Linked DNA regions of Homo sapiens: region 2 is linked to region 1. Evidence: fine-mapped expression QTL. Tissue or cell type: esophagus mucosa. Region 1 holds a variant in brackets; the other region holds the start of a gene. All regions are shown on one strand. Distances are between the middles of the regions.

Evidence for each region. PIP is the estimated chance that this variant, and not a neighbour inherited with it, causes the effect.
Region 2: UHMK1 starts here. The variant in region 1 is fine-mapped to the expression of UHMK1 in esophagus mucosa (GTEx, PIP above 0.99).

The regions. Positions count from the first base shown.
Region 1 is chr1:162,378,070-162,384,006 of GRCh38, reverse strand. C1orf226 (chromosome 1 open reading frame 226) reads right to left here and starts at 2,279. Exons shown (of 2, transcript NM_001085375.2): 1 at 1,789-2,279; 2 at 1-825. The coding sequence starts at 2,105. The coding sequence ends at 324. RefSeq lists a silencer at 1,334-1,628. The variant T/C (reference allele first, on the strand shown) is at 2,343.
Region 2 is chr1:162,495,092-162,501,028 of GRCh38, reverse strand. UHMK1 (U2AF homology motif kinase 1) reads right to left here and starts at 3,211. Exons shown (of 8, transcript NM_175866.5): 1 at 2,761-3,211; 2 at 782-1,074; 3 at 1-116. The coding sequence starts at 3,028. RefSeq lists enhancers at 2,474-2,974, 3,161-3,240, 2,975-3,475.

The DNA.
Region 1 (5,937 bases):
CAATTCACTGAGAAGACAGGACAAGCTCAAGAGTGGAAGAGCTCTAATGTCCAAGGGCTGCAGCCCACTCAGAGGAGGTTACAGAAAATTAGGCTCAAAACGGCATCAAGTCCTTCAGCCATTCTGCGGATAGACTCTTTAACTAGAACTACTCAAGGACTTCCAGTCCTGCAAAATCCCATGATGGACGACTGGCTCTCTGCTGGTGCCTCATACAAGGAAGACAAAGGGCACAGCGGAGTTGAGGCCAGGGCCAGTGTGCGCAGTGGAGGAGAAAGCAGCAGGAAGACAAGGGCAGAGCTCAGCAGGAAAGAGCAGAGGCTCTATTCAAAGGACAGCAGGTCTGGGTGAGGGCCCTCATTGTCGAGGCTGGAGGTCCGTGCCTGAGGAGGGGGGCTGCCATCCTCCCAGGACTCAGCCAGGCTGATGGGGCTCAAGCTGAGTTTGAAGCCATTCCTCTCGATAAGGCTGGGGGAGGAGGCCCTTCTGCACTCAGTCATCTTTAGCTTGGATTCGTCCTGGCTATCCTTGTGGATTAGGTCAGGTACTGACAGGGAAACCTCTCCATTGGGCAGAACTTTGCCTCTCTCTTCTCTTTCCATGGTGGCCTCTGGCTGTGAAGCGTCTGCTGGGACGTCAGGCTGGGCAGTGGGAGCGGAGTCCTGGGCCTGCCCAGGTGATGGCTCTGTCCCATACTCCAGACTGCTGAGGACAGGCTGTGATGAAATCAGCATGTCCTGGGTGGTCTTCAGGGCCCGAGGGGTTCGCTTTCTGGTTATGGGAGGTGGAGGATCCAGCCGAGGAAATGTTTCTTGCAGGACTGACCTGTAAGGTTAATGACAATAAACACACATGCCTTAAGGACAGCAAGACACCAATCCACCTGCCATCTTGCTTCTCCAACTCCAACTGCACTTTCAACCCACCCCACCCAATAACTGCTCTACTCCTTGGGCTCTGGTTCTTGGTTTGGCACATAGGCCTTAGCAATTTCAGCATAACAGTAGCTTTTGGCCTGGTCCATGCTTACTCAGTGTTCAGAGCAGCACAAAGTGCTGGCCTCTAGAAGACAGGATAGAGACCGCTGGTGAAGCTTGTCAAATCAGAACCCAGGCAGTAAGTCCTGTGTTTAAAACAGGGAATGTGAGGGCATTCCCACCTCAGATGCACAGGTGTTTAAAACAAGGCCTGGAAAGAGCCTGTTGGTAGGAGGGGGAAGAACAGGAGGGCTGCTACAGGGGGCTTCTCCCACTGTGCCCTAGTGGGCTGTGACAGGTGCAGGCTTCTCCACAAGCAACAGTCTACGGCAGCGCTTCTCAGCTATGGCCGGGCATCAGAATCTACCTGGGGACCTTCTGGGCAATAGCTGGGTTCAAATCCAGCTCTGCCAAGTACTATCTTTGTGACCTCAAGCTATTTACTTTGTCTGTCTGAACGTGAGTTATCTGCAGGATGGAAATATCATCTACCTCCCAGGGCTGCTGGGAGGGTTAGACAAAATGATGCAACTATAGCCTGCAGCACAGAGCTGAGGACATGGTGTGCACTCAGCAACCTTCAGCAGCACAGAGCCGAGGACATGGTGGGCACTCAGCAACCTTCAGCTGTGGCTGCAGAAGGTGAAGCCAGCTCCCGAGAACGTGGCCTGATCCTGCAGCTTTTCAGTACAGGACAATCTCACACCCCTCCCTTGGGGCTGTTCTCCTGTGCAGACACTGCAGTTTGTCCCTGTACCTTTTCAAGTGGGTCCACAGAGGGGCATGGATGTTGGGCGGGTGAGGGGCTCACCTTTCATCCTCTAGCCAAGCCTCTGGAGCCGCGTCAGTCCCACTGGCCAGCTGTGCTCCTGCAGTCTTGTTGATCTCTGTCACACCCACACTGCCCAGGCTGGAGGGCTCCTTTCTCCTCAGGAAGTCATTCACTTTGGCCCCCATGGCTTTGCCCAGGTTCTTGAGGTGCTGGCTGCTGCCCACCCAGAGTCCTGGCCCCCCAGGCTCACCAGAGCCCAGAGGGGCAGAGCCGGGGGCCACGGGCTTGGACAAGTGGGGGAAGGAGCGGCTGGCCTGGAGCTTTGGAGTGAGGGCTGTGTTCAAATTCTCAAACATGCCGTGGTCAACTATGAACAAAGAGGCGACAGAGAGGCATGATGAGGAAAGGGGAGCGGTACCTGTGCTCTATCATTCAGTTTTTCCTTATCCCACACCCAAAACCTGTAACTTCCAAGGCTTTGGAAATATTCAAGAAAGAGCCAGCAAAGACACTCTTGAACTTTCCAGTGTAGTTTTCTTGATGGGACAGGAACTAGAAATTCTAGCTCTGCCCCACCCAAGTTAATCAGTGAC[T/C]AATGCTAGCCATAAAAAAATAAAGTTGTTCCTGTAAACCTGCCTCCTTGACTCATGGGCTTGGCCCCTTTACCTTGGAGTCACCACGCCCTTTGGAGTAAAGAAAAAATGAGGATGAAGCAATGAAACATGACATTTTTACATCACCGTAAGCACGTGCTGAGCTCTCAGTGGGTTGGAAGCTGGTGGAGGGATGGCATGGATGAGGCTTGGTGTTAGAAGCTCCCCACTGAAGGCCATGAGTATAGCACATATTCTCCACAAAAAATGGGGCAGCAGCTCCTCAGGTCTACAGAGGTGGGCCTTGAGCGAGTGGGCCAGCTCTTGCAGAGGTGCTAAGTGGTGGTTCAGAATCAGTTCGTACCAAATGGATAGGAACTCGGTGCCAGTGAAGCACGAGGATCCCAATGAACATCAGCTTACTTAATCCTTACAACCACCTAGGGAGGTGGTACATGGAAGGATATCTACCTACAGATGAAGCCTGCAGGACTCCGCGTAATGCAGTGCCGTGCCTGAGGTCACACAGCTAAATACTAGCAGGGCTGGAGCTAGAACTCAGGCCTTCTAACCCACAGCTCAGGGCTCTGTCCACAACTTTGCCCTGCTATAGATCATGGAACAGCTGCCTATATATGCCTGGTACATGGTCCTTCTTGTAGGGATCCTCTTTGGCTTGAAAAATTAACTCAAAGAGCTGGGTATAAACCCATTAGGTTGTAAAGATTTGCAAGGCAGAGAGCATGCCTCATTCATCTTTGTATTTTCAACACCTAGCCTGGGTTTGGTACCTAGCTGTGCTCAATACAGATCTTGAATCGCCAAAACCCATTTTGTAGATAGAAAATTGTGGTGGCCAAGGTGGTAGCTTAAAGGTTTGTTATTGAAATGACTGGAGCTCCAGGCTCTAAGCCATGCTGTCCACACACTCACACTTGGCCATCCTCTCCCTATCTGGAAATCCAGCTCAGTCATCAGGCAGCCAGACCCACTCTGAGGCCTTGGAATCTGGGTCAAGGTTTCTGTCTACACCAACTACCCCAGATATGTTGTCAGTCTGAGGAAAGGAGATCGCTCGATCATTTGATGACTAGGCTCCTTTCCTTGTGAACACCTCTGCTAAGTGTCTATTTTCACTGAGCCTCTTCTAAGAGTAACTGGGGTTAGGGTGTACTTTTTCTTCTGCTGAATTTTTGTGTAAAGCAGTTCTTTCTGCCCTGCACTGCTGTATCCCGGGCCAGTGAAAACCTTTCTTGTGGTTTCAGTGGTGCTATCCTTTCTAGGCCAACTACCTAGGTATGCCATATTCTAAGGGCCTTTGGGTGGCAGGGAGGAAAACCTGTGGGAAGTGAAGTGGAGACTACTCTCTGCGGATGAGCCCTGTGGCCTGCACCACTGCAGGGTGAGGACCTGCCAGGGAACAGCATGACAGCATCCCTGGGACACAGGGCCCAAGCTGGCTGGGCTCCAGATAGACCCACCACACCAGCAGAAGCTTCCAGCCCGCTCCACAGCAAGCAGGGTCATCAACTCCTGATGATTCTCCTAAGTGTGTATCTTGCCACATCATCCACTTTGGCACAATTTGCCTGTCAGGTCCCACATCCTTCTTATTTTCTTTAATCACGTCATCCGCAAACTAGCAAAGAAGATTTGGAAACCAAACCATTTAACTATTTCCCCCCAAACCAGAAAGTACATAGACAACAATGAAACTGTACGAAATGCCCGGGGAAGGCAAATTGCCACCACTTCCCAAATCAGACATTTCCCTGGTGGTCTCCTTATTGGTTTAAAGTGACTTTTCAGAGCAGACATACTCGTTTTTAAAAAGGCAAGCACCAAAAACACCTGTCAAGGTGATTAGTAAATTATAAGCTATTATTATTTTTAAAACACTCTTTGTAATAAACAGAACTCTGGATTATGCACCATTTTGGATTTCCTGTATTTTTTGCTCTCTACCCTTCATAACATAGTCTATAACGCACTGAATTCTTAAGTAATGTAAAGATAGCCTACCATGCACTCCCTTTACCCTTGTCTAAGTCTTTCCAGTAAATACACCTTGTCTTAAAATGGTAAGGTCCTTGAGGGCCATAGCTCCTGAAGTGTTTCTTTATCTTCTACAATGCCCAGCTTAGGGTCTTGCACGATAGTAGGCATTTAATAAGTTTGTTTAATTGAATTTGACTTTTATATGAATTCTTAAAAATTGCATGATGGACTGACATTGTAGGGAAACTGCTCACAAGTCTTTTTCCATTTATAAAAACCACTCAAAACTCCCTCTATGGGAGTGGTCTTCAGGGGCTCTTGAGGTCAGACCCGGATAACTGCCCTTCTATTCAAAGTGAAAGTGGGGCTCTGGCTGGGGGGTCCCTTTATCCCTATGTCTGAGGATGTGCAATGGGTCCCTTTCTTGATGATGACGCTAATGACCCCCACACATTATCTCTCTTGCTTCAGGACTAGAGGCTTGATGGTTCAGAAAATAATGGCAATGGAGGACAGAGAGATGACTGGACCCCAGCCAGGTGGCCCTCCCAACAGTACCCCCCAACATGCACACACCCAAGCAGAGGAGGGCATCTGGGGATGTAAGTCATCCACAAAAAAACAGGATATCTTACCTGTCCGAGAAAGGGGCTCGGAAAGCAGGTGGGAAACAAACAAAAGAAAGACACATTTTACGTAGTGACCAGTCACTTTGAGAGTGTCACCTCCTGCCTGGGCCACCAGCACCAGCATACCTCGGGGGGACACAGCACACAAGACAGGGGACCTGCTACGAGGAGTGGTGTGCACCCTGGAACCGCCAGGCTCCCACAAACTTTTCAGTGACTAAACCAAAACCGGGTCGCATTTTAAAAACTCTACACAGGCACTGAGAGATTCTGCCTCCCATATTTCCCCCCAGTATTTTAAGCTCCCTTTACTTTAAGTCTGAGGTTGCAGTGGGAGAGTCTGAAGTTGGCAGTCGGAGAAATGTGATGGGTCAAGACAGAATGCAATTCCAAGTCCTCGGGGTCCTGTGTGCATCACTCACAAGTATGCTACTGTCCACATGTCAGTCACTGGGTTTTAGCCAGGAAGATGTTCATCCATTCCAGTTTAGAGTCTAAACTAATAACATGGGTAAACCAAGTAGCAGAGAGATTTGCCCAATATCACACAGGTAGCTCATGGCGGAGCAGGGTTAGAAGTCACATAAGCTGATGCCCAGACTCATGAGCTTTCTCTACACCATAATGGACCAAATGAAATTGCTGATACCCCCCAAACTGCCAAAGTATGTGGCTTCAACTTACTTTCCAATACATGCTAATGTTCCAAACCAGGCTATCTGGGAGGAACACGAGGGGAATCATGTTCTCCCATTGTCCTTCGAATGTTTCAGTACCGTGAATAAATACACACAGGAAGACAACTCTGGGCTCTCACGTGCAGAAGCTAACTCACACCTCACTCACACATGCTCGACAGCACTGCAAAACAAGCCCATCACTATTTCCAGAGCGGCCATAGCTCCCCATGCAGCATAAACATACCTGCCATCTAGATCTGCAGCCCTGCTCTGTATCTAGTTGACATG
Region 2 (5,937 bases), 120 kb before region 1:
CACAGATCAACAGCTGAGGTACATTCTGTATCACTCTGCAGGCCAGCCTGGGCCAAGCAATTTTGCAATTCTGCTTCTGGAGCCCGATACCCGTCTGTCTGAATATACTTTACATCCTAAAAAAGATGAGTAAATATTACAACCAATAAAAAAGCTGCTCCCTTTCTATCCATCTCTACAGTGAATTTACTTCCCTAAGAGTGCAGTAAACCCACTGCCAAGCTAAATGCTAAAAATTTTTAGTCCTTGATTACCATAATTCTTTGGTTCATTAACTGGGCAGTTCTCAGAGGCAAGCTGTACATTTCCATATAGCGCTCATAAAGAAGTCTTCTTTGGATTGTCTCTTACCTATTAGGCACTGCTGATAATAAGGACACTGCAAAGAAATGATAAACCATGGAGAAAAGAGGATTTGGCAGAACTATCATATGCATTCTGCCACGAGATACAGCCCCAACACTGAAGAGACCAGGAATAGTAACTCAGCAATTAGCCAAACACGCATAAAATTTAAAAAACCATTCTATGTAGGTTAAGTACTTTTAATAATTCCAGAGCTCTCATGCTTCACTGGCTCCTCCTACCTGACCCAAACATTATGTCCTTTTTTTACACGGTGGCACTGAAATTCTTTTGATTTACTGCATCCCCTGGCATTTCAGTAATTTAGGTTAAAATGACTTGTAAGCCCCTACTAAACTACCCTTGTCATTTAAAAATATTTGGCTTCAACCACTACATTTTAAACTGCGAGAGAAAAGAAAAGGTTATTTCTTACCTGATTGCCTTCTTTGAAGCTAAGTCCAAAGTCAATGAGTTTAAAACATTCATTCTCTGCACTCCACAATATGTTACGTGGTTTGAGGTCCGCATGGACATAGCCCTCATGATGAAGAAAAGCAAGGGCCTCCAAAACATCTCGGGCACAATGCTGTATCATCCACATGGAACAACCCTGGTGACTGGAATATAAGAGCAATTCCGAAACACTGACATCCAGGAGTTCAAGCAACAGACAGCGTGATGGCACATTTGGAGAAAAGTGGATTGTAAACACTCCATACAAAGTCACTAGAAAAAGAAATTATAATACTTTAAAAATCAGACTCAGAGTAAGTCACTACTAAAGTAGGTAACTGCAGTACAAATTTGAGATAGTCTAGATAAGGATAACTTTGATGAGCAAGCTTCCACTGTAATTTATTTTTCCCATGAATAAGATCTTTTGGCAATTGGGTTATTTTAATAAAAATAAGATGAGACAGCCTACAACAGCTGATTACCATTCACAGATACTAAATATGGTACAATTATTCAATTTGTGTTTCACCAAGTACTCATTGGTGATGAACACGAACTTGGAGTGCCAAGCAAAAATGATTAAAAGTAAAAAACCTAAATATAAATAAATAAAACTTACTGTTGCATCATGAGGTCCTTTAAAAAAAAAGAAATTTTTAAAAGTAAAAACCCAAATATTAAGTAACTCTTTTAAAAGGAATGTCACAATGCGCAAAAACCAAACTAAACATTGCTTCTTCATCCAAAACAGCAGTCTAGGTCTGCCACGGTGGCTCATGCCCGTGATCCCAGCATTCTGAGAGACCGAGGCAGGAGGACTGCTTGAGCCCAGGAGTTTGGAGACCAGCCTGGGTAACAAAAGGGGACCTCTTCTCTACAAAAAATTAGCCAGGCTTGGTGCTACGTGCCTGTAGTCCCAGCTACCTGGGAGGCTGAGGTAGGAGCATGGCTTTAGGAGGAATTGGAGGCTGGAGTGAACTGTGATCTCGCCATTGTACTCCAGCCTGGGTGACAGAGTAAGAACTTGTCTCAAAAAAAAAAACTAAAACAAAAATAAACAGCTCTCTATAATCTAAATACTAACAAAGAGATTAAGACTTTTCGGATGAAATTTTAATCTTGCAGAGATCAGGCAAGTCCCTAGGCTTGCAAAATTTTTCCCTTTTCAATACCAAGGTTATAGTAACAGACCATTTAGTAAACTAAAAAAATGTAGCACTAGTGTTAATTCTTCTCCAAAATGATATTATAAAAAAACTCACTCTTCAAATTAACTATGCATCATACTTGCTAGGAAATAAGACTTTTCTTTAATAACCAAAGCTATAACTAATGATAAGCTTTCTGTCGTGTAATGAAAATGAAACCTTTTCACAGATCAATCATCAGTGATCATTACATATCTTACATTCTGAGTATCTGATTCTTGAAACAGTCTCAAGAGAGCAAAGGTATAGTGTTCCTAAATTTCACACTTCTATAAAGGCTCCCATGGAATAGTGCATCATTTCTTCCAAATCCGTACTAAAGATATAATAGGTGAGCTATACGAGTTACTAGCATTGATGTCACAAGGCCCAGACGTAGTTCCCATTTTCTACTGGTATGCAAAGATTCAAAAATTTCCACACAAGACACGACAATCTAGCAAAGACATGCCTCCTCTCACTAGAAAAGATATTTCTGTATGCTAATGAATGCGGCATTCTCCGATGAGACTCGAAGCAAGACAATTTACTGAGCATCTATGTGACACCTGGCAAAGCAGACCACCAACTCCACTATACCGCAGACAGTAATAAAGTGAAAGGGGAAAGGGGCCTGGATGGGGTGATAAAGAGGGCTAAACCCGCTTCTCCCGCAGAAGGGGAGGAAGATGGAACGCCAGACAGCGAGAGGAAGAGTGTGCTCGGACTGTGACCTGGGCAAGAAGAGAAAGGAGACAGCGGCAATTACCGATGTTTCTGTGACCCTGCAACTGTTCCAGCGCCGCCCTCTCTTTGCGGAAACCATACTCGGCGGCAGAGGCCGCAGCCCCGGTGGTTCCTGGCGGCAAGAACTGCTTGAGGGCGCCGGGGGGCGAGCCAGGGTTGCCGCAGCAGCGAACCCGATACACCGAGGCGGAGGAGCCGCTACCCAGACGGCTCTGTACCTGCCACAGCCGCCCGAAGGCCTCCAGAAAACGCGGCGGCTCCGCGCCCCAGGCGCAGCCGGATCCCGCCATCGGTGTGGGTTAAGGGCACGGACACGGGAGCTGACGCGACGCCTGAGGCAGGCCGGCCGGGCCCGCGGTCACATCTCCGCCAGCCGGACCAGCGGCTCCGCAGGGAGGGACCTGCAGCCGCCTCACCGACTCCCGGGACTTCAAGCAGCCATGACACCGGAAGCCGTGGTGCACCCGAGTCCCAGAAGCCGGAAATGGAGGAAGAGCCTATCATACAGGCCGAAGGAGGGGGGGCTCAGAAGGGGCGGGGCCTAGAAGAGATTAGACGCGCTAGGTTTGGAAAAAAGAACCGAGAATAAGAAGTAACCTTAATTATTGAGTATCTACCATTCCAGGCCCAGTGTTAACCGCTTTCACATAGACCTGAAGCCAAAACTGGTCCTTTTTCTTGTTGAGGCACCTCACCTTACCTCACCACTAGGAACCCGAAAAATAAAACCCGGCCTACATTTCTCATAGAAAGGATCCCAAGGAAAACACCCCAGGAACAAAAAGAGAGTTTACCATCACCTCCAGGTCCACGGTCACCAGAACCCATGATTCTGGAAGCCTAGACCTTTGTTCTTCTTTTAGATGTAAACCGAAAATACAATTCTAAGCCCCCCGTGTCGCCAACCATCGGAATGGACTTTCTCCCAGGCCAGGGCACTCTAAAATTCTGGTTCAGTCCATGACGGGAAGTGGGGGTCCGACTAGCCTCATACCTCTCCGGTTAAGGTCAACACAGACCTTCGGTCTGGTAAGAAACATTTACAATCTATTTTCTTGGAAGCCTGGTACCTGGAGGCTTCATCTGCATGACAAAACTTTGGTCTCCACAAGTTCTTATGACAACCCAGACATTCCTTTCTATTGATAACTCTTTCAACCAATTGCCAATTAGAAAAATTTTAAATCTACCTATAACCTGGAAGGACCCATTTCTCCCCCCACCAATTCCCGCTTCGAGTTTTCCCACCTTTCTGGGCCAAATCAATGTATTTCTTAAATATATTTGATTGAAGTCTCATGTCTCCCAAAATGTATAAAACCAAGCTGCACCCCAACCACCTTGGGTACATGTTCTCAGGATCTCCTGAGGGCTGTGTCACAGACCATGGTCACTCATAGTTGGCTCAGAATAAATCTCTTCAAATATTTTACAGAGTTTAACTCTTTTTATCAACATAGTCCACCTTGCCTATGGCTCCCTCATCAAAAAGCATTCACCCTGGGCAAACACGGATCTGTTCCAAATTTTTATTTTTCATTTATTTATTCAATTATTTTATTCATTCAGCAAACGTTTATTGAGTAACAAATGTAGCAAATAGGCATCTCAATCCACAAACTCGAGTGTGTAAGAAATGTAGCCTTCTTTACTTTTCAGTCATTCAACCTTTTCTATTTCAAGATCTATTCTGATTGTGTGGCAAAAACTTAGTATCAGACAATAGGCCCTATCTTCTTTTCTTCAGGTTTTGTGTAAGTTCCCAGCCAGATGAGATGGTTCATGTAGTGCTAAGTGGAAAGTTTGAGGAGAGGTTGAGGACTAAACTCTGACCTGTCTTCTCTCTTGCTCAATTTTTTTTTTTTTTTTTTTTTTTTTTGGTAAGACGGAGTTTCGCTCTTGTTGCCCAGGCTGGGGTGCAATGGCATGATCTCGGCATCTCCGCCCACCGCAACCTCCTCCTCCTGGGGTCCAGCGATTCTCCTGCCTCAGCCTCCCAAGTAGCTGGAATTACAGGAATTTGCCACCATGCCAGCTAATTTTGTATTTTTAGTAGAGATGAAGTTTCTCCATGTTGGTCAGGCTGGTCTCGAACTCCTGCCCTTGTGATCCGCCTGCCTCACCTTCCCAAAGTGCTGGGATTACAAGCGTGAGCCACTGCACCTGGCCCCAAATTCTTATCTAAGGGATGTGAGGAGTCACAGCCTACAAACCATAAAATCTCATCAGATTGTCAGAGGTGTTCAAACCAGAGCAACTCCATCTTGAATAGGAGCTGGGTAAAATAAGGCTCAGATCTACTGGGCTGCATTTCCAGGAAGTTAGGTATTCTAAGTCACAGGATGAGATAGGAGGTCAACACAAGATACAGGTCACAAAGACCTTGCTGATAAAACAGATTGCAGTAAAGAAGCCAGCCAAAACCCACCAAAACCAAAATGGTGGTGAAGGTGACCTCTGGTCGTCCTTACTACTCATTAGATGCTAATTATAATACATTAGCATGCTAAAGGAAACTCTTACCAGCACCATTACAATTTACAAATGGTATGGCAACGTCCTGGAAGTTACCCTACATGGTCTAAAAAGAGGAGGAACCCTCAGTTCCAGGAATTGCCCACTCCTTTCCTGGAAAACTCATGAATAATCCACCCCTTGTTTAGCATATAATCAAGAAATAACTATAAATATGAATAACTATAAGTCGAGCAGCCTAAGCTGTTGCTCTGCCTATGGAGTAGCCATTCTTTTATCCCTTTTACTTCCTAATAAACTTGCTTTATGGACTCATTCTGAATTCTTTCTTGCGTGAGGTCCAAGAACCCTCTCCTGGGGTCTGGATTGAGACCACTTTCCAGTAACAAGATAGGTTGGTTGGTTGGTTTGTTTGTTTGAGACAAAGTCTCACTCTATCACCCAGGCTGGAGTGCAGTGGCGTGATCTCAGCTCACTGCAACCTCTGCCTCCTGGGTTCAAGGAATTCTCCCACCTCAGCCTCCCGAGTAGCTGGGATTATAGGCATGCGCCACCATGCCCGGTTAAATTTTGTATTTTTAGTAGAGACGGGGTTTTGCCATGTTGGTCAGGCTGGCCTCGAACTCCTGACCTCAGGTAATCCTCCTACCTTGGCCTCCCAAAGTGTTAGGATTACAGGCATGAGCCACTGCACCCGGCCACAAGATGGGTTTTGTTTAACCCC